4 separate regions of the Homo sapiens genome follow, and regions 2, 3 and 4 are each linked to region 1. The links come from fine-mapping of genetic effects on gene expression. A gene starts in region 1. Each other region holds a variant in brackets. All regions are shown on one strand. Distances are between the middles of the regions. Region 1 holds the start of GPR18 (G protein-coupled receptor 18). Region 2 overlaps UBAC2 (UBA domain containing 2). Region 3 has its middle 52 kb from the start of DOCK9-DT. Region 4 overlaps UBAC2 (UBA domain containing 2).

Region 1 (5,151 bases):
AATCATGATGAACAAAGGAATCAAGAAAAAAAATGTCAGTCGAGTGAGGTTCAGCACGTTCACAGCTTTTAGATAGATGATGTCAGAAATCTTGAGGCAGGTGGCGGGAGTGGAGTCTTTATCTGGGTCTTTATAGAGCAGTAGCAGAGGGGTGGTCGTGGTCAGGGTCATTATCCAGACTCCCACACACGCCAGCACGGCTTTGCACGTGTTTTTAAGTTCTTTGGCGTACTTCGGCTGTACAATGGCCATGTATCTGTCAGCACTAATAAAGGCAAGAAGCCATAAAGCAATGCTTGGGTAAAACACTGTGAGAGCTCCAAGAATCTGGCAGAAGTACTCTCCAAATGGCCATTCATCTTTTGCATAATAAAACATTCGAAAGGGTAAAGTCATTATAAATATCAAGTCCACTAATGCCACATTCATCATATAGATGGTTACCGTGGTTCTCTTCTTGGTGGTACAACTGAAAACCCATAATGCAGTGATGTTAACAAATAATCCAATTATGAAGATACAGCTATAGAAGACAAGGGCTGCAATTTTGTATTCATCTGGATGTGAGCTGTTAAAAGGGACAGGTTGATCTTGATTGTTCAGGGTGATCATTTTACAGCTTGTTGGTAGGCATGATACTTAGAAACTGTAAAAATAGTTAAGAAAAATAAGAATAAAATCGTTGGTTAAAAAATAAATGCTTAACATTCTCCCACTCAGCTTGACTGCCAGTGAATTTTAAGTTCGAGAGCATTTAATCAAGGAACGATTCAACTGGTTAACTACTGAACATTCACAGTAATTCTCATTTGAGAGAGAATGGGAACTTTTCCTTTGTTACAGCTATAGCCCCACTGTCTATTGAGCATGTAATAGGTACTCAATAAATAAATATTTACTGAATTGATGAATAAATGAAGGAACTTTTGATGAGATGATTCACAGCAACTCTACTTTGCTAAAAAACTCTAGTTTGTAATTCTCTAGTTTGAAAATGAAGACTTGTGTAGCTGGCTATTAAACTTTTTGTTTTTTTTAAAGTGGAAACACTTCATAATATTTATTACCTTATGTTCTCTTTAAATTATCATAGGTTGAGAAACAGCAATGTTTTGTGTCATGGTCAGCAGATCAAGAACTAGACTGTTAGAGCAATAGATGAGCTGTTTTCTAGTGCACAATTGGGAGTACGTAAAGCCAAGTCTTCCAGGTTTTGTGATTTCAGCTGCTCTACTTCAGTGGTTCACAGAAAGCAGCACCTTGAAAAAAGCTAGTGCCGTTAGTAACTTTCATATCCTCATTCCATCTAGATTCAGAAGCTTCAATATTATTTAAATTTTAACAATTTTCAAAGTAAATCCAAAAAAGGAGTATCTAAGACAAGTAGATATTAATAAGAAGTCATTCAGTAACTTGATGTGTATGTAGAAACTTATAAATTTCCATCACCAAAAAAAAAAAAACCGTCCATTTTAAATGGAAAGGAGGTTATTTGGGGTTGCAAATATCATTGACTCCTCAGTGTGAAACTTCATTCCCCCATGATGCAACACCAACAACAGACTTCAAAAATAGACTTTGCTGCAATGAGATGGAATCTGTGGCATCCCCTTGTAATATGGAGGTGGATGAAAAGTTTCCTTCAAAAATGTCACTTTGCAGAGTGGGCTGTCTTGAAATCAGCCCAGAATTTCTCTTTAAGGAAAACTATGGGGGAGATTTGCTGTCTGTGGTCAGTGGCATCACGGGCTATTGATAATTAAGAATTAACTTGAGCAATTGCTGTGGTTAAACACAAGAAACGTGCCTGTCTGCCTTCCTTCCTTTCCCTTCCCTTCCCTTCCCTTTCTTCCCTTCTTCTCCTTCTTTCCTTCTCAAATATTTAGGTTAAATATGATTTAGGAGCATAATTCTATATATTTAAAAACATATTAAATTTTCCAAATATTGGTGTGACTAGAATATTAATTTCTATCAAATGAGGAAAGTGCTACAGAGAAAAATTATATCTCTAGTGTCATTCAAAGGAGAGTAATCTTGGAGGCTTAAATCTTATTTTTAACTGGAATGCATTCTTATTAAATAGTAGCAATTATAATATAAATGAAATTTTGTATTTGTTTTTCTTTTTTTAGTATTGCATCAGGACTCCCTTCACCTATCCTCATCCTTCAATTTTGTGACATAAGTCCTGTACTTACAAACCATCTTGAGTCTTTTTTCCCACGTTATGCTCAAGCTGTTTTTATGTAGCTTGTCACCAATACTTATATTCATTTGCTGACGTTTGAAAAAAAATGAGTGATGCATGTGTTTTAAAGGCATTATAGTATTGATTGTGCTCTGCAAACACAGAAATTTTTGGATAAATATTGAAAAGTGATTGACTTTAAAGTCAGCTTTTTAAAAGCTATAGATACCATGATTATCTGTAGCTTTTCTTTTCTTAAAAACCATTAAGTTATTTCATGAAACAATGTAATTGAAAACATGTGATGAACATTCCTAAATATACATATGATTTACCATAAACATTTTCTTTCCTTAAGTTGAAAAAAATTACATTTAGTATTAATGTAAAGCAATATTGAAAATAAATGTAAAATCATATTAATGTGGAAAGATGATTATATAGCCTATTTCAAGGTCTTTCACCAACATAGTTTGTTATGTTTATTTTTTTAATTAAATATATTTTTTTAATAGAGACGGGGTCTCACTATGGTGCTCCTGGGCACAACTGATCCTCCTGCCTTGGCCTCCCAAAGTGTTGGAGTTACAGGCGTGGGCCATTGCGCCCAGCCTGTATTATTAAAATGAAATGATTTTTGAAATGCAGTACATAAAGCATTACTTTTGACAATAATCATGAAGTTAATTAAATGCTGCTTACCTCCTGTCCATCAAAAGTCTGTGTGAGAGATGAGCATTTTTCAGCACTTCCACTTCTGTCGAAGGGATATCTTTGAGTTGCTTCTGTTAAAATAGCTCTTTCTGGAAACAGTGTATTTAAGAAATGTTGTATTTTGTTTTAGACTCTTTTGTTGCTTTAAAAAGTAGTTTCCAGTGTAACGCTTGGCGTCGGAGTTGGTGCTGGGCTGACTTTAATTGCTGCTTTGTCTCTTTCAGGAAGTGCTCTCTGAAATAGGCTTTTTCACCTTATGACTTTACCCTGGATGTGGTTTTTCTCTTTCACAAATGATTTGTTTATGAAGTCACACTTAGCATAAGCTCCCCTTGAAATGATGGCATATATTTAAGATAATTATATACAAAGGATAAAGTTTCTTCAGTTTGTGTACTTTGATGCTTGAAGTCTGCATCATCTATGGAAAGAGAAGATTTGATATTGAGTAAAAGGGGGTTTAAAGTCTAGCTTCTTTGCTTTATAAGCTATGTGACTTTGTCTAGTTACCTACCCACTCTGACTAACCCTTTGTTCCTACTTCATTTCTGTACAGTTGAAATAGAGATAATACTATATCCAGTAGGATTGTAGGGGCCCTAAACCAGAAAGATCCCAAGTGCTTAATAGTACCTGGCACTTAGTAGGTACTCCTAAATGGAGTCTCACTTTTTACTACCAAGTTATTAAAAATCATAGAATATCCACATTTCCACTTTTTACTATTTAAACATTTCTAAATGCTTAAAAGTAGGATCCTTGATTAATTGCTTCTGCTTTGCCACATACATTTATCCACTTTAGTTTGCTGTATTTTGTAAGTCTGCTTTTCTAGTGCGTGGAAGTCTAGAAATAATTTCTTTTGCATAAAAATTTCTGCAAATCTTAGCAGAAAGGACTCTGAAGTCTTTAGTGGACTGATTTACATATTAAGAGTGTTTTCACCTAAGAAGGGAAATGAAACCAGCAGAAAGGGAAGTGAGCAACGAATCGCTGCCTGCCTTGTTAGGTTAATTTTGTTTTACTTTCTCATTTCTTAAAAAAAATTATCTCTCATTTGCTTATCCTAAAATTTTAATTATCTTTATGTTTGGTTATGCATGGTTTGTCAACTTTTTAAAGGGTTCATGAACTTAAATGTATTTGTTTTTTTGAATTTTAGACAGTTTGGGGTCCATCCTTTTTTTTTTTTTTCTCAGACAAAACCATAGTAAATCTGTGGCTTAGAAAAGTTACTTAAATCCTTGCCTTTGGTGATAAAATACTTTTGATTGTTACAACCTGCCAGAATGATGGGTTTTAGAAGTGTTGGAGACAACCATAGCAACTATTTCTTGTGTGGATGAAGAAATTGAAGGCCAGTTACTTGCTTAAGAACTCAAGGTAAAGCCAGGTCCAGTTTCTCCCGCTGTAATAACTTCTTATGAGGTAATTATATTGATCTGTCCACTAGATAGGACTTCTTATGGCTGAATCACATTCATCAGTTTTTTATATGTGATGTTATATTTCATTCATCACACAGGAGTTTGATGTTTCAGCTGGACAGAAATCTGCCTGCATGCAGACCTAATCTGTCCTTTGCCTTATTCACATAGCTTAGGACTTTTCTAAAATTAAGTATTGATTAGCTTCCCCATTGCTGCTAAAATCAACAGATACATTGATGGCATGTGTCTAGAAGAGTCCTTTCATCAAGACTTGAATTCTTCACGGTGCACAGGGGCATTCTTGTTTCTGAATTGCCAGACTCTTAGAGGAGGCATCCAGGAGCACCTGAGGGCTCTCCATAGGCCTGGCTTCAGGTTGGGGTGAGCTCTCACTTTTTCCTCATCTTGCTCTCCATTCCAGCCCTCTGGACTGGCTACATTTGCTCTTCCTGCCTCTCACATGCTGTTCCACCCACTGTGGCATTCCTCACCACTGTCTCCCACCTGATGGCATGGCCTGCTGCTCTTTGTTCTTGTAGCTACCTTTTTCAGGAAGCTTTCTCTGCCATCCGAAGCTGGGCTGGTTTCTCTGCCCTCCGAAGCTGGGCTGGTTGTTCATCCCTGCAGGTTTCCTTAGCACTTGGTACCTATCCCTGTAGTGGCACATGTTTGCATTGTTACTGCATATTTACTTGCTTTTTCTCCTCCACTAAATTGCATTCCTTGAGAGTTGGCATGTGTTGCATATGTGTGTAGAGAAGAGGCATTTAATATTGGTTGAATTTCTGACTGAACAAGTAGGTGAAGAAATGGAGA
Region 2 (5,151 bases), 90 kb after region 1:
AGTAGAAGGACGGGTGGAATTTGGATGGGTGGAGAGGGTAAGGCACATCATTCCAGAGGAGAGGACCAGCAAGAGTGAGGCATGGAGGTGCTAATGAGACCTTAAAAAGGAGAGACCTCCAGGAGCCCTGTGATTGACATGTGGGCAGATATGTAGTGAGAAATGGGAAATGATATAGTAACTGATAATGGAGGGAGGTAGTTTAAGCCTGACAATAGATTTCGGCTTGGACATTGGCTGTGAAAAATTGTTTATTCAGTAACAAAGATAGGACAGTTATCTCAGAAAAATGTCATTTTATTGCACAGTGTAAGATGGACGGGGGAAAGGAGAAACCACAGAGGAGGAGACAAATAGAAGGAGGTTTCTAAAGCCCGGCTCTCAGAGGAGTGCCTTGGCTGGGCTGATGCTGTACTCTGGATCGAGCTCTCCTTCCTCTGTTCACTCCCTAAATAGGTTGTTTCCCAAGACTCAGTTCTCTGCCTACTGAGCTTTTCACGTTAGACACCCAAGGGGACCCACCCAGCCCCTGTCCTCACCACTTTATTGAGCTCATGGCTCCCATGAGTCCCTCAAGATCTAGAGACTGGACCTCCCTCTCTCCTGGGGCTCCAGACCGAAATATCCTACTGCCTATAGTACATCTCCACTTCACTGTCCCATCAGCTCTTGACAGGTACTGTTTCTTTTTTTCTTTCTTTTTTTTTTTTTTTTTTTGAGACAGAGTCTTGCTCTGTTGCCCAGGCTGGAGTGCAGTGGCGTGATCTTGGCTCACTGCAACCTCTGTCTCCTGGCTTCAAGCAATTCTCCTGCCTCAGCCTCCCGAGTAGCTGGGATTACAGGCGCTCACCACCACATCCGGCTAATTTTTGTATTTTTAGTAAAGACGGGGTTTCACCATGTTGGCCAGGCTGGTCTTGAACCCCTGACCTCATGATCCACTTGCCTTGGCCTCCCAAAGTGCTGGGATTACAGGCGTGAGCCACCGCACACAGCCGACATGTACTGTTTCTTTGCTAAATTTGTTTCCCTTTCTCACTCCCTACCTGATGAAAAGCACCCATTGTTTACCCGAAAGTCCAAACCTAGGGTTTCACCCCAGACATTTCCCACTTATACATCCATGTCCTTCCTGCCTTCCCCACCAGTTCAGCCCCAAAGAGTCTCCCTCCTTGATGTAAGTCCGTCATTCATCTCCAGTGCTGTAGTTCAGGCCACCGGCGCCATTTGCCTGGATTTCTTCCCTCCCATCTCCATCACCGACTGCCTCCCTCCTGAGCCTGCCCCACAGCCTCCACCAGTGATCTCTGTGAAAACAGAAATCTGCTTGTTTCACTCCAGCTATCATCCTTCAGGGCCTCTCCATAGCTTTCAGGGTGGTTCCAACACAAGGCTCCTGCCTGCTATGTGGCCGCATCTCCTTTCTGCTGCCGTGTGCAAGCCCTTAGGCCAGCCATGCCTCACCGGGTTACTCACAGTTAACTGCTGCTCATATTGTTTCACGCAGTCTCACCTTTACATCTTCCCTTTCCTCTCTGCCCAGAATGAACTTCCCTGTACCAACCCCTTCACCCCACCCCTCCCACATACACATCATTTTCACTTGTCTAGCTGCTATTTACTCGGCATTCCTGACAAATATCGCCTCCTCAGGGAGGCCTTCCCCAGCTTCCTGGGGGGCTCCCAGGGCTCTCTCTGCCCCTGTAGACACTGCCTGTCTCTCGTGGCACCGCAAACCCGATGTTCACTGGTGATTTACTGCCCTTTCTCCACCAGTGTGTCTCCGGATGGAGCAGACTTGTTTTCTGTATATCTCCAGTGTGTGAATAATGCCTGGCAGATGTTAGGAACTGTGGGAATTAATGAGCAAATATGAGCATAATAAATAGATACAGAAAGACTTTAAGCAAGCTGAACACAGATGAATAATCAGGGCTGGAAACATCTACAGAGGTTGAGTGCAGTGGTTCACGCCTGTAATCCCAGCACTTTGGGAAGCCCAGGCGGGCAGATTGCTTGAGCCCAGGAGTTTGAGACCAGCTTGGGCCACATGGTGAGACCCCCATCTCTATTTAAAGAAAAAAAAAGATCTACGGATACTCTTGAGAGAACAGTAGAAAGCAAGACCCATGTCTAGAGAGTGCAAAGAGGGAAAAAAAAGAACCCCCAGGGACCAAGGAGAAAACCAGTTCAGTGGCCAGGGAGCCTGCGGAGTAGAATGTTTCAGGAAGAGTAGGTGTTTCAGGAACAGATTCAGACGTTACTATCCCCGGGCGCCCCCCCCCCCCCCCAGGAAAAAAAAGGCAAGTGAAGATGATACTGGAAGACCACCACTGGATTCAGCAGAATGAGTTCACTTTTGAAAGGGGCTTCGGTGGAGAGATGGGGATGAGAAGCGCTGCATGAGCTGGAAGTGGGGGAAGGTCAATATCACTCTGTTCTGACTGGCTGCCCTCATTCTGGGACATCACTGTGGTCACGCTGGTCCCCGTTCAAGTTACTTTCACTCTGTGAGAAAGTCAATATGATCTTATGCTCCTGAAGCATTTTTAGTCCACTGTGTGGCATATTCCCATTCCACAGCTCTGATGAACAGTGACCAGGGTGATGGCTCTATAGATCTCACTTCAACTGAGACATGAGACCTAGGTGCTGACAGGGGCAGGGTACAGTGGTCCCATGCTCATCATTAAGCACAGGCATGTGATAACGTCATCTAGTGTGCTTTGACCTCCTACAGATCTTTCTGGACATTTCCCGCCAGCACTGACTATCCAGAGGCCTTTGGAGGCTTGTCTCATGGGCCTGTGGCAGTGAAGATGGAGTGGGCTGCAGA[G/A]TATTAGCTGCAGCCTGTGGTGCCCACTTCTTATCTCCCTCCACATCCACAGCTGTCCCATTCTTTTGTAAACTCGGGACACTATGCTGGACACACATAAGCTGCTCTCAGTAGTTCCTTGCCCGCTGACTCACTCTTGTCTCCCAGCAGAGCTGCCTTCTCCAAAGCAGGTGGCATCTCAGAGTCATTTTGCTACTTGCAGCTGTGATCATCTTTACACTGCCAGGGCCATTACATAACTTTTCATGGGTTTGTGTTTTGTTCATCCCCAGTAGAATATGAGCTCTTGGAGGACAGGAGCTGTTGTACTTCTTTGTCTTTTGGCTCTAATGCAGTGTACTGCCCTGAGGGATTAAATAAGACGCCGCCTGCGCCTTCAAGAAGTTTGCAGCCAGCGAGGGGAAGACATGAGGCTGTACTAGGCACTAGGTTTCTACAGGAGTCTGTGCAAAGAGAAGAAAAAAGAACCCTGAGCCTAAACAGTGGGTGTGGCCAGTTCTCCCTAAGGGATACAGCGAGGGTAATCTTGAGGCCAGCATTGGGGCAGGTGTTTCAGTCACGGGGGGCCTTATGAAAAAACGCACAGGGGCTCAAAACAGCTGTGGGGACAGCAAGGAATTGCATTCGCCTGAGATTGAGGTTCCTATAAGAAAGAGGCAATGAAAGACATGGTTGGGAAGAGAGCAGAGGCCAGGACGGGTCTTCTACCAAACTAAGAATTGCTGTTGTGTTCATCCTGCCAGAAGTGGTGGATCAGTGAGGCCTTTTAAACAGGAGAGTAAGTTAGATTTATTTTTAAGAAAGCTCACTTTAGTCATAATATGAACGTTGTCTGAAGGGATGACGGTAGGCTGGCCACAGTGGCTCATGCCTGTAATCCCAGCGCTTTGGGAGGCCAAGGCAGGAGGATAGCATGAGCCTAGGAGTTTGAGACCAGCCTGGGCAACATAGTGAGACCTCTTCTCTACAAAAAAATTTTTTAAATCAGCTGGGCGTGGTGGCCTGTGCCTGTAGTCCCAGCTACTCAGGAGGCTGAGATGGAACGATCACTTGATCCCTGGAGGTCAAGGTGCAATCACGGCTCAAAAAGAAAAAGAAAAGAAAAGGTGACACTAGAGGAAGAAGACCAGGTGGGAGACAGTGAAAATTCTGTGTGCTCAGGATATTGTTGGTGATGAGCTAGAGCATGCTTAGCTCATCACAGTGAAGGACGAGGGCAGGCTTTGCAGAGCCTCCTTGTCTTCAGACCTCCAGATCAATTACTGGAGTCTCCTGTAGTAATGATCATCCGAATGGTGCCTGTGCAACCTGAGTCTCCACAGCTTCACGGTGCATGTCTCCCTCCCTTTGCTCGCTGTAGCAAAGAAGCTCTGTGTGCTGTGATGAGAAAGATGTATCTGTTCTCTACCACTGGCCCCTGACACACAGCACCTAAAGCCCTTGGAATCTCCACAGTGAGCATAGGGTCCAGCCCTACAGGGCTTAGCAGGTGTTCTCCCCATGTGCGGAGATGAGATTGTAATAAATAAAGACACAAGACAAAGAGATAAAGAGAAAACAGCTGGGCCCGAGGGACCACTGCCATCAAGATGCGGAGACCAGTAGTGGCCCTGAACGGCTGGGTGCGCTGATATTTATTGCATACAAGACCGGGGGTCAGGGTAAGGAGGGTGAATCTTCTAAGTGATTGACAAGGTGAAGCAAGTCACGTAATCACAGGACAGGGGGGCCCTTCCCTCTTAGGTAGCCGAAGCTGAGAGAGAGAAGGCACCATACGTCAGCGTTTTCTTCTATGCACTTATAAGAAAGATCAAAGACTTTAAGACTTTTACTATTTCTTCTACTGCTATCTACTACGAACTTCAAAGAGGAACCAGGAGTACGGGAGGAACATGAAAGTGGACAAGGAGCGTGACCGTTGAAGCACAGCATCACAGGGAGGGGTTTAGGACTTCGGATGACTGCGGGCAGACTGGGATAATATCCAGCCTCCCACAAGAAGGTGGTGGAGCAGAGTGTTCCCTGACTCCTCCAATGAAAGGAGACTCCCTTTCGCGGTCTGCTAAGTAATGGGTGTCTTCGCAGACACTGGCATTACCGCTTGACCAAGGAGCCCTCATGCCGGCGTGACAGAGGGCTCACCTCTTGCCTTCTAGGTCACTTCTCACAATGTCCCTTCAGCACCTGACCCTATGCCCGCCGGTTATTCCTAGGTTATATTAGTAATGCAACAAAGAGTAATATTAAAAGCTAATGATTCATGATGTTTATAATGATTGATAATGTCCATGATCATCTCTATATCTAATTTGTAT
Region 3 (5,151 bases), 120 kb before region 1:
GGAGGCCTGGCAGGGTCACCACAGTGCTCAAGATACCTGTGTCAGCAAAGCTGCAGGAGCCAGGCACATAATGAAAGCACAAAGCCGCCTGGAATACAGTGCAAAGCCTGAAAGTGAGCCTGAAGCAGACACCGTAGAAAGGCGCCAGTTGAGTCGGAAGGGTAGATCCAAAGGCATGATCGCATCAGCATCACAGGTGAGGAGGGACATCCAGAGTCTCTGGGAGTCCGTCACAGTGAAAACTGCTCCAGCATCAGCAAGGCGAGCCTTGCATTCCCTCATTCAACCATTCACTCGTGTATTCAGCCAGACGACATTAGTGGTTGAGCCCTTCCTATATGCCAGACACTCCCTAGTGCTACAGATCAAAAGCCCCGTTGAACCCTGCCGGGCTCTGCAGGCAGCTCACAGGTACCCAAACTCCTCATAGTCATTGGGCTAGACAGCTGCCCTGAAGGTCCCCTGCAGGCCAGGGCACGCTGCTCAGAGCACTCCAGGACACAGTGGCCACCCCTTCTGCAGCCTTCCTGTCCCCATAGCCTGCCTGACTTCAGGTCTTTCCCAGACTTGACCTGCCCCTGGGGATGTGACGACCGAGGGGCTCTGCACATTGGCCCTCTGACCTGCACAGTCTCACCCTGCAGGCATGAGGCTTGGCACTGCCCCTCTCCAGCTGGATCATAGTGGTCTGCTATGGCTGGGCTGGGAATGGTCCAGGGGCCAGCCCCATATATGTCCCCTAATTTCCTAAACCCTGGAGTCCAATTACAGAGTGAGTACAGGGGATTTTGAAGGATCATGGCTTCATACGTTTGCTTTTGGCATATATTGTCCAACAAGTCCTTGACCAGCAAGAGAACCTACAGTTATAGCATTGTTTCTAAAGATAAACACCATGCCTTTTTTGGGGGATGCAGTATCCAGGAAGGTGTCATGTTAAAATGCAGGGTTTCTGTATACACACAGGAGTGAAGGAATCTGACTCAGTCTTTGGCCTTATAGTCTTGCCCTACACATACTGAAAGGATTCTTTTTTGTTTTTTATAGAGACGAGGTCTCACTATGTTGCCCAGGCTGGTCTTGAACTCCTGTGGGCTCAAGTGATCCTCCCACCTCGACCTCCCAAAGTGCTAAGATTACAGGTAAGAGCCACCACACCTGGCCAGAAAGGACCCTTGAAAGCAGCATTCTTCAAATTGGGTTATCTGTCTTTGAGGGACACATGGGTAAGCTGTGGCTCAAACACATGGGCTAAGTGTAGAGGGAATCACTTCCCAGGATCTCAGCTTCCTTTCTGAGGTCAGGGTCTCCTTTCCCAGCTCTTCGCTCTCAGTCCCTTCTCCACTTACTGAAGAACGGGAGCCTCTCACCATCCTGAACCGTCCTATGGTGCATTGCAGGGGTGAAATAACTTCCGGGGCATTAAATAAAGGGATTTTTGAAATGCTAATTGGTGTTAAAAGAGGGATGATTCTATTGATGTGGTTGAAAAAAATCATTACGTCAGGTAGTTGCTTTTTCTTTGCATACAACCAAATTAAAGGAAGACCAAAGTTTCAGCTGATAAATCATTACAAATTATTTTAGATGATAAATATTTGTGTGGTGGGGGACATAACTCAGAAGGGGTTCAAAGAATTGAAGGTCAAGGCTATGGCAAAATGCTTCCTTCCCCATCTACTTAATTAATGTCTGTATGTTTTCTCGGTGCTTACATTTAAAAAATAATCGGCATGTAATTGGTGCTAAACCTAGTGTTAAGTCTACCAAGAATTAATATTCTCTGGATACATGAACTGGTTGAGAAATTCCCACTCATCTCAGTAAGAGATGCATTTTCTTTCTCTTTTTTTTTTTGAGACGGAGGCTCATTCTGTCGCCCAGGCTGGAGTGCAGTGGCGCGATCTTGGTTCGCTGCAAGCTCCGCCTCCTGGGTTCACGCCATTCTCCTGCCTCAGCCTCCCGAGTAGCTGGGACTACAGGCGCCCGCCACCACGCCGGGCTAATTTTTTGTACTTTTAGTAGAGACGGGG[C/T]TTCACCGTGTTAGCCTGGATGGTCTCCATCTCCTGACCTCGTGATCCACCCGCCTCGGCCTCCCAAAGTGCTGGGATTACAGGCGTGAGCCACCGCGCCCGGCCTGGAGACCAAAGTTTTAACATGCAGGTGAAGCCTCCAGGTATCAGGCTTCAGAGACGGTAGATTATAAATATTTCTTATCAGACTTAAAGAGTCTGTTCTGTCAGTAATTCCAAAAGGGAGGAGGGAATAATGAGGCATGTCCGATTCCCTCTTCCCATCGTGGCCTGAACTCATTTTTCAGGTTAACTTTGGAATATCTTTGCCGAAATGAGGTGTCCATTCAGATGGGTGGGGGCTTAGAATTTTATTTTTGGTTTGCATTCTCCCCCTTCTGGCCAAGATTTGCCAGAGGCAACATTAATGGCCACCAAGCTTTTATTTTGTCCCATAGAGTTGCTGGGGTGGCATGGCTGCCTGACCCAAGTCCATCCTGTTCTTCTGTGTGATGCCCTCATCCATGGCCAATGGACTTAGAGCCAGGAGACTTATAGCCAATTATACGTTCTAGGCCATATAGGAAAGGACGTGGACAGGCATTCATTACCTCTTAACAATTTTAAAGTAATACAAAAGCCAACAAACAAAAAGCCAAAAGTGAGGTTACAAAATTGACTTTATCTGTCTTTAACTTCCATGCATTGAGCTACTGTAATCTTGGTTTTTGTTATGGACTCGTAGCAGTTAGCTATTCAACACATAAGCATTGTTAAAACCTTTTAGGCTAAGGAATTTAGAGACTTTGTTGTGTCACAATGCTTTTTGGGGTCTTTTAGTAATTTGTCCTAAGGTGGCTGAAATTTTTTATTTTTTATTTTTTGAGATGGAGTCTCGCTCTGTCGCCCAGGCTGGAGTGAAGTGGTGCGATCTTGGCTCCCTGCAACCTCCGCCTCCTGGGTTCAAGCGATACTCAGCCTCCGGAGTAGCTGGGACTACAGGCGCATGCCACCAGGCCCGGCTAATTTTTTGTAATTTTAGTAGAGATGGGGTTTCACCATATTGGCAGGCTGGTCCCTGGCCTCAGGTGATCCACCCACCTCGGCCTCCCAAAGTGCTGGGATTATAGGCGTGAGCCACTGAGCCCTGCTGAAAAAAAATTTTTTAAATACATATCTATCTTCATAAATCTCATAAGTAGGAGTATTATTCCCGGGAGGTTTTGTCATGAGGTATCCTTATATCCTCTCAGTAATAATTTTATTTTAATTCTATGTGAAGCAGAAAATTCTTCATGGTTGGGACGAGTGAAAAGGTGCCACACCATAAAAATCCAGGAGGTAAAGTCCCTTATTTCACCAGCTGTTTAGACATCTGTGTACCCATCCTTGATTTGGAGGGTCTGAACTAATTCTGTCCCTCAAAACCAGCCCTTACAATCTCATGCACCCACCTCTTCCATGATAGTCCCCGGGCCCAGAGGGAGGGTGCCTGTACGGTTTTAGTAGCTGGGTATTTGCAGTGAAAAACAGATCAGGCCAAGTGGGATTCCAAGTACAGGAGACGCACAGGCTTTGTCAAATCATCTCTAGTCTTCAGAAGACCATGATTCTGGTGTTCTTGCATGAAGTAAAACTATGAGAGATAAGTAATGTTAACAATTTGACAATTAAAAGAGAACGTGTGTGTCAGAACAGAAGAAGGAATCTATTCCATTAGGGTGCCAACTAAAAACATGAAGAAAATTATAACCTGGATTCTTGCAGCCAGAAATAACTCATGATTCAATCTGTACGCAAAAACAAAACCCAGGGCTGGAATCTAGTAATAGGTGTTATAGTTTTCCTTTGAAACAATTTCTCTCTCTTTCCAGCCCTCCTTTTCTACTAAAGAAAAATTATTGGAAGACCAGCATTTACTATGGCCTGAGTAATAGTCATATTCAGTGGGAGAATATCTGAAGTTTATTTAAAGGTTATATATAAATGGTGAAATGTTCACATCTTAAGTGGGCCATTTAGACAACTTCAGTCATCTGTGTAACCCAAATTCTGGGTGCAGAGGTGACACGCAGCACATTACCATCACCCAAAAAGTTCCCTGATCCCCCTTTTTTTCTTGGAGACGGAGTTTCACTCTTGTTGCCCAGGCTGGAGTGTAATGGCATGATCTTGGCTCACTGCAACCTCTGTCCCCCAGGTTCAAGAGATTCTCCTGCCTTAGCCTCCCAAGTAGCTGGGATTACAGGCAGGTGCCACCACACCTGTGTTGCAGGAAGTCAGGGACCCCGAACGGAGGGACCGGCTGAAGCCACGGCAGAAGAACATAAATTGTGAAGATTTCATGGACATTTATTAGTTCCCAAAATTAATACTTTTATAATTTCTTACACCTGTCTTTACTGCAATCTCTGAACATAAATTGTGAAGATTTCATGGACATTTGTTAGTTCCCCAAATTAATACTCTTATAATTTCTTATGCCTGTCTTACTTTAATCTCTTAACCCCGTCATCTTCATAAGCTGAGGATGTATGTCACCTCAGGACCCTGTGATGATTGCATTAACTGTACAAATTGTTTGTGAAACATGTGTGTTTGAACAATATGAAATCAGTGCACCCTGAAAAAGAACAGGATAACAGCGATTTTCAGGGAACAAGGAAAGATAACCATAAGGTCTGACTGCCTGCAGGGTCGGGCAGAATAGAGCCATATTTTTCTTCTTGCAGAAAGCTTATAGACGATGTACAAGTAGGAGAGATATCGCTGAATTCTTTTCCTAGCAGGGAATATTAATCATTGAGACCCTGGGGAAGGACTGCATTCCTGGGGGTAGGTCTATGAACGGCTGCTCTGGGAGCGTCTGTCTTATGCGATTGAGCTAAGGACTGAAATACTGGTCTCCTGCAGTGCCCTGAGGCTTACTAGATTGGGAAATTCCAGCCCGGTGAATTCTAGTCAGACCAGTTGTCCGCTCTTGAACCCTGTTTCCTGTTAAGATGTTTATCAAGACAATGCATGCACAGTGGGACACAGACCCTCATCAGTAATTCTAATTTTGCCTTCGCCTTGTGATCTTTATGGGCTTTTGAAACATGTGATCCTTGTGACCTACTTCCTGTTCGTACACCCCTCC
Region 4 (5,151 bases), 79 kb after region 1:
AAGAGTAAGAAACAGATGAGACAGACAGAAACCAAATTGCAAAATCCAGCTATTCAAGCAAATACATTAAGTATGAATAATAGCTAAACACTCCAATCAAAAGGTAGAGATTGTCAGACTAATTTAAAAGAAAAAAAATTGCTATATGGTATCTACAAGACACACTTTAAATACAAAGACACAAAAAAAGCCTGAAATTAAAAGGATGAAGATATATTATGGAGACAGTAACCATAAGAAAGCTGAAATGGCTGTTTTAAGATTAGACAAAGTAGACTTCTCTATGAGTATTACTAAAAACACAGCAGAATGCTTTGTTATGACGAAAGGGTCAGTTGTGTTTGTGTGCCTAATAACAGCGTCCACAAACAGGAACAGCTTCTAGATATATGAAGTTAAAATAGCTAATGGGAGCAATGAACAAATCAACAATCACAGTTGAATACTTTGAGACCGAAAAATAAAAATGTTTAATTTTGTACTTCATTCAAATCTCACAGCTCTAATTTGTACTACATTTTTAATATTTTGTTATGTTTATAACATTTTGCTATCTTCTGCTGAATCAGCGTAATGCTGATATACACCCTATTTTCTGTTTTATATCAGATCTTCAGAAAAGGCATTTCTACTTCCTTGCCTCCAATTCATTACTGTTTTTTTTTTTCCATATTGACTTCATATGTCTCTCTTCATTAAAAATATATATTTGTTACAGAGAATGCCTCTGCCTACCCCCTACCCTGTCCCCCATCACCCCTCTACAGCAAAGACTGCTTTCTGTGATTCTGTAGTTACCGCAGACAGATGTGTGCACAAACGGCATAGACTATTATTTTGTTGTCTGAAATTTTGCAGGAAGATGAGCGCAACATGTGATACCTTCTATGTGTATTTTTCATTCCACTTTAAACACATCAGTACACGCACATGGAGTTCATCTGGATGGCTGTATAGTACTGTGTTGTATGAATAACCCACTCTGCAGCTGTTCCCCTCTTGGGGATGATTTGTTTCTGCTTCCTCTCTCTCTCATGCAGGGCTGCAGTGGAATGAGCCTCAAAGCTCTACTTGGTGTTGCCACATTGCTCCCCAGAGGCGCCATAGCTTCACCTTCCCTCGGGACTGTGTGAGAGTTCTCAGTTCCCTCCATCCTTACCAAAACCTCACACCTGGAATCCCAGCACTTAGGGAGGCAGAGGCAGGAGGATCGCTTGAGCCCAGGAGTTCAAGACCTGCCTGGCAACATGGCAACACCTCATTCTCCACAAAATGGAAAAAAAAAAAAAAGAGATAAAACTGGATGTTAGAGGAGCTTTACATTTTTGCCAGTTGCTGTATTTAAGATTGCTCATTTTAGATTTCAGAGTCCTAAAAACAAGTGAGGATAAACATCTTTTCATGAGTTTGTCAGCCATTTGAGTTTTCTCTTCTGAAATTACCTTTTCATATGCTTTTAAAACTGGGCTCTTTCTTACACATTCCTAGGGTTTCTTGATATGTTCTGAATGCTGCCTTGGTTGGCTGTATGAATTCTGAATACTTTCTTCAGGCCTCTTGTGTTTTCATTTCATTTATGGTAGCTTTTGGCATACTACAGCTTTTAAATTGTAAAGTAGACCAGTGTGTGTTTTCTTTTCTAGTTTGTACCTTATGTTTCTTAATTTAAAATATTTTGCCACCCCAGTGCCAAAAAGGTATTCCTTCTGTATTTTGTGCAGAAAGATTTACAATTTCATGAATTCTATTTGAGTTCTTATTCCATTGCAAGTTTACGTTTGGTGTCAGGAAGGGGCCCTGTTCTGTCTCTTCCTTGTGTATAGCCCATGTGCCCCTTCCCTCCCAATTTACCCATGTCTGCTGAATACCAGGTGCCCTTACACTGAGGATCCTATTTCTAGGCTCTTGTTCTCTTGGTCTATTTAAGTAACCCTAGATAAAGACCACACTGTTTTAGGTAGCCAAACTTTATAGTATGTCTTGAAATCTGATAGGACTTA[C/G]GTTTCTTTAAAATTGCCTTGCCTTTTCTGGGTTTTTTATTTCTTTGTCTTTTAACTCTTAATTGTGATATACAACACAAACTAACTGTCACAAAGCCTTGCAAATCACTATAAAGCAAATATACCCATAATCCACCATGCAGGTACAGACCATGCCTGGCCAGCCCCGCAGCCCATGGTGCCCCCCTTCCTTCCCACCTCTCTTCCTCCTTCCCACCTCCCTCCTGTGACCCCTTCCCCTTCTTTCTCCCTCCCTTCTGTGACCCCTCCTAGCACACATAGTCATCATCTTTGCGCTTTCCTGTCTCGTTTTACTGCTTAGTGTGTGGTTTAGGTTCATTCATTCACAGAAGTGGAATCGTGTTTTCAGGCTTTGGGTCTGGCTTCTTTCTCCCAACATGGTGTTTTTAAAATGCAAACCTTAAATATTCCGCATGAATTTGAGGCTTGGCATTTACATTCCAACAAAACACCCTGTTAAGATTTTATTTTGAATGATATTTAATTTATGTATTAATTTGATGAAAATTGGTATCTTAAAAGTTTTGCATCTTCCTATTCATGGAACTGGTATCTTTATTATCACTAGGGTTGGTTTTGAAAAAATATCCCTTATTATCTTTTTCTTTTTTTTCTGTCAAGGCCTTATATATATATTATTTATTTATTCCCAATTATCTTACAGTTTTTCTTGCTGTTATTTGCTAACAGTTTATTTTTTCTTTCTAAACAGTCTGTATTTTATCCCTGGTTGCTTTTAAGGATTTCTTTCTTTTGTTTCACCACAGTGGATCTAGATGTAAATTTCGTTTTAGCATTCTTTTAGGGACTCTTGCCCTTTCATCCTAAGGATTTATATTCTTTCTTTATTCTAGAAAACTCTCAGCTGTTTATCTCTTTAAATATAATATCCTTTCCCCCATATTCCCTCTGTTGTCTTCTTCTGGAACCCCTATGCTGACAGCCGCATGAGATGCACATAATCTGCCTGTGCAGAGGCCTTGGCCTTCCCAACCCACATGGACCCTCCTTGGTTCATGCCCTACACAGCTTTTCCCTTCTCTCTGTGGAGGGGAGAAAGGGTACATGGAGCATGAGGAGGAACTGGGGTGCCTCTTACCCAGACTTAAGTAACCCTCTACTTCTCTCCTCCTTCCACAGGGCCTAGACCCTCTAGTCCAGGGGTATCTAGTCTTTTGAACTCTTCTGTGACACATTGGAAGAAGAATTGTCTTGGGCCACACATAATATACACTAACACTGAAGATAGCTGATGAGCTTTAAAAAAATTGCAAAAAAATCTCCTAACTTTTTTTCTTTTTTTCTTTTTTTTTTTTTTTTTTTTTTTTTTTTGAGACAGAGTCTCACTGTGTCGCCCAGGCTGGAGTGCAGCGGCACAATCTCGACTTACTGTAACCTCCACCACCCAGGTTCAAGCGATTCTTGTGCTTCAGCCTCCTGAGTAGCTGGGACCACAGGTGTGTGCCACCACGCCCGGCTAATTTTTGTATTTTTAGTAGAGACGGGTTTTTACCATGTTGGCCAGGCTGGTCTCAAACTCCTGACCTCTTGTGATCCGCCCGCCTTGGCCTCCCAAAGTGCAGGGATGACAGGTGTGAGCCACTGCGCCCAACCTTGTAATGTTTTAAGAAAGTTTATGAATTTGTGTTGGACCACATTGAAAGCTGTCCTGGGCCACATGTGGCCCACAGGCCTCAGGTTGAACAAGCTTGCTCTAGTCCCTGTGCTTTTCTGAGTCCCACAGGACTCTCTGCAGGCATTTGGACTTATATGCTGCTTATATGCAGAGTGGTTTATAATCACTTGATAAGCTTTCTATTTTGTTAGCATGGTTCAGGATTAGTTTCTGGTTTCATGGACCTTGGAGTTTGTTTCTGTTTTCATTTTCTTTGTCTTGTACTATTTTTGAGTAAAGGGGCACAGAAATTATTTGAAACCAGAAGTTGTCCACCATTCACTCTTCAGCCTACTACAGTCTGTCTTTGGTACCAAAACTGTTCTTGTAAACACCTTGTTTATCAAACACCTCCATTTGCAACATCCAGTGGCTAGTTCTGTCTTACTTATCAGCTGCATTAGATATAGCTGACCATCCCTATTTTAAAACACTTCTTAGCTTCAGTGATAACTAAACTCTATTTCCCTTCTCTTCACTGGCAGCCCTGTCTCAGATTTCCTTACTGGCGTTTCCTACTCTGTCTGTCCATAGAATATTTGTGCACTCCTGGATTCAGTCCTTAGTCCTGTTCTCTCTTCTGCTGTGTCTCCTCCTCCCCCCCATTTTATCTCCTCTAGTCCTGTTACCCTAAATGTCATATCATATCCAGTGACTCTGAAATCCTTATCTCGACCTTTTCCTTGAGTTCTAGAATTACATAGCCACCTGCCCACTCAGTAGCCCCCCAAGATATCTAATAGACACTCCCAAGCTCGGGCTGCGCAGCATCTGCTGCTTTCTCTGCCCAAAATGTTATTTCCCCAGTTCATCAAGTCACGGGCACCGCATCATCCTTAAGATCTTCGCTCAAGTATCACTTTCTCTGAGGGCTCTCCTGATGTCCCCCGCTGCCCCCAGAGTAGGTTCGTGCCCCATGTCACTTTATTTCCTTCCCAGAACTTGCCAGAAATAGTTTTATGTGTTGACTTGATTACTGCCTGTTCTCCACATTGACTGCTATAAGCCCTGTGAGAGTGGGGCCTTGCTTATCTTGTTCTTTGCTGTATTCTAAGTTCCCAGAACAGTGCCTGGTGTGTAGCACAGTCTCAAAGAATTCTTGCCAATTCATCAATTTAAATTTTATTTTTAAACATTGAAGTATACTTTTCTCATATTAGAAAGTTGTCAAATATGTTCTAATCTGATCTTCTAATCCTAAGAATCAAATTCACATCAAGATTTTTTTTTTTTTACAAAGGAATAGCCATAGTCATTTTTAACTAGAAAATCATAGGAAGCCTTGAGACTTCTGTAACCATACATTATAAATGACCTTCAAGATGAAGACAAGGTTGGTTTATAAATGGAACTAATATTGGTGAGGATTTTAAATGTCTAGAAAAATCAGTAGTTGAAAAACTGATTAAAACACTATGTAAATAAAAACCAAGATTTTAGATTGTGTTTATTCTC

Evidence for each region. PIP is the estimated chance that this variant, and not a neighbour inherited with it, causes the effect.
Region 2: its variant is the best candidate, but not a certain one, in a credible set for the expression of GPR18 in whole blood (INTERVAL, PIP 0.55).
Region 3: its variant is the best candidate, but not a certain one, in a credible set for the expression of GPR18 in blood mononuclear cells (TOPMed, PIP 0.60).
Region 4: its variant is the best candidate, but not a certain one, in a credible set for the expression of GPR18 in whole blood (INTERVAL, PIP 0.66).

What each region holds. Positions count from the first base shown.
Region 1 is chr13:99,255,261-99,260,411 of GRCh38, forward strand. It overlaps GPR18 (G protein-coupled receptor 18), which reads right to left and starts at 3,119. Exons shown (of 2, transcript NM_001098200.2): 1 at 2,894-3,119; 2 at 1-646. The coding sequence starts at 612. The region is part of intron 4 of UBAC2 (UBA domain containing 2); the gene reads left to right. It overlaps LOC124903198 (a long non-coding RNA gene), which reads right to left. Exons shown (of 3, transcript XR_007063846.1): 2 at 4,879-4,988; 3 at 3,179-3,326.
Region 2 is chr13:99,345,044-99,350,194 of GRCh38, forward strand. All of the region lies in intron 7 of UBAC2 (UBA domain containing 2), which reads left to right. Among named protein-coding and RNA genes, the nearest start is that of FKSG29, 3.8 kb to the right of the region's middle. The variant G/A (reference allele first, on the strand shown) is at 2,837.
Region 3 is chr13:99,136,134-99,141,284 of GRCh38, forward strand. No RefSeq gene overlaps it. Among named protein-coding and RNA genes, the nearest start is that of DOCK9-DT, 52 kb to the left of the region's middle. The variant C/T (reference allele first, on the strand shown) is at 2,034.
Region 4 is chr13:99,334,723-99,339,873 of GRCh38, forward strand. The region is part of intron 6 of UBAC2 (UBA domain containing 2); the gene reads left to right. Among named protein-coding and RNA genes, the nearest start is that of FKSG29, 14 kb to the right of the region's middle. The variant C/G (reference allele first, on the strand shown) is at 2,001.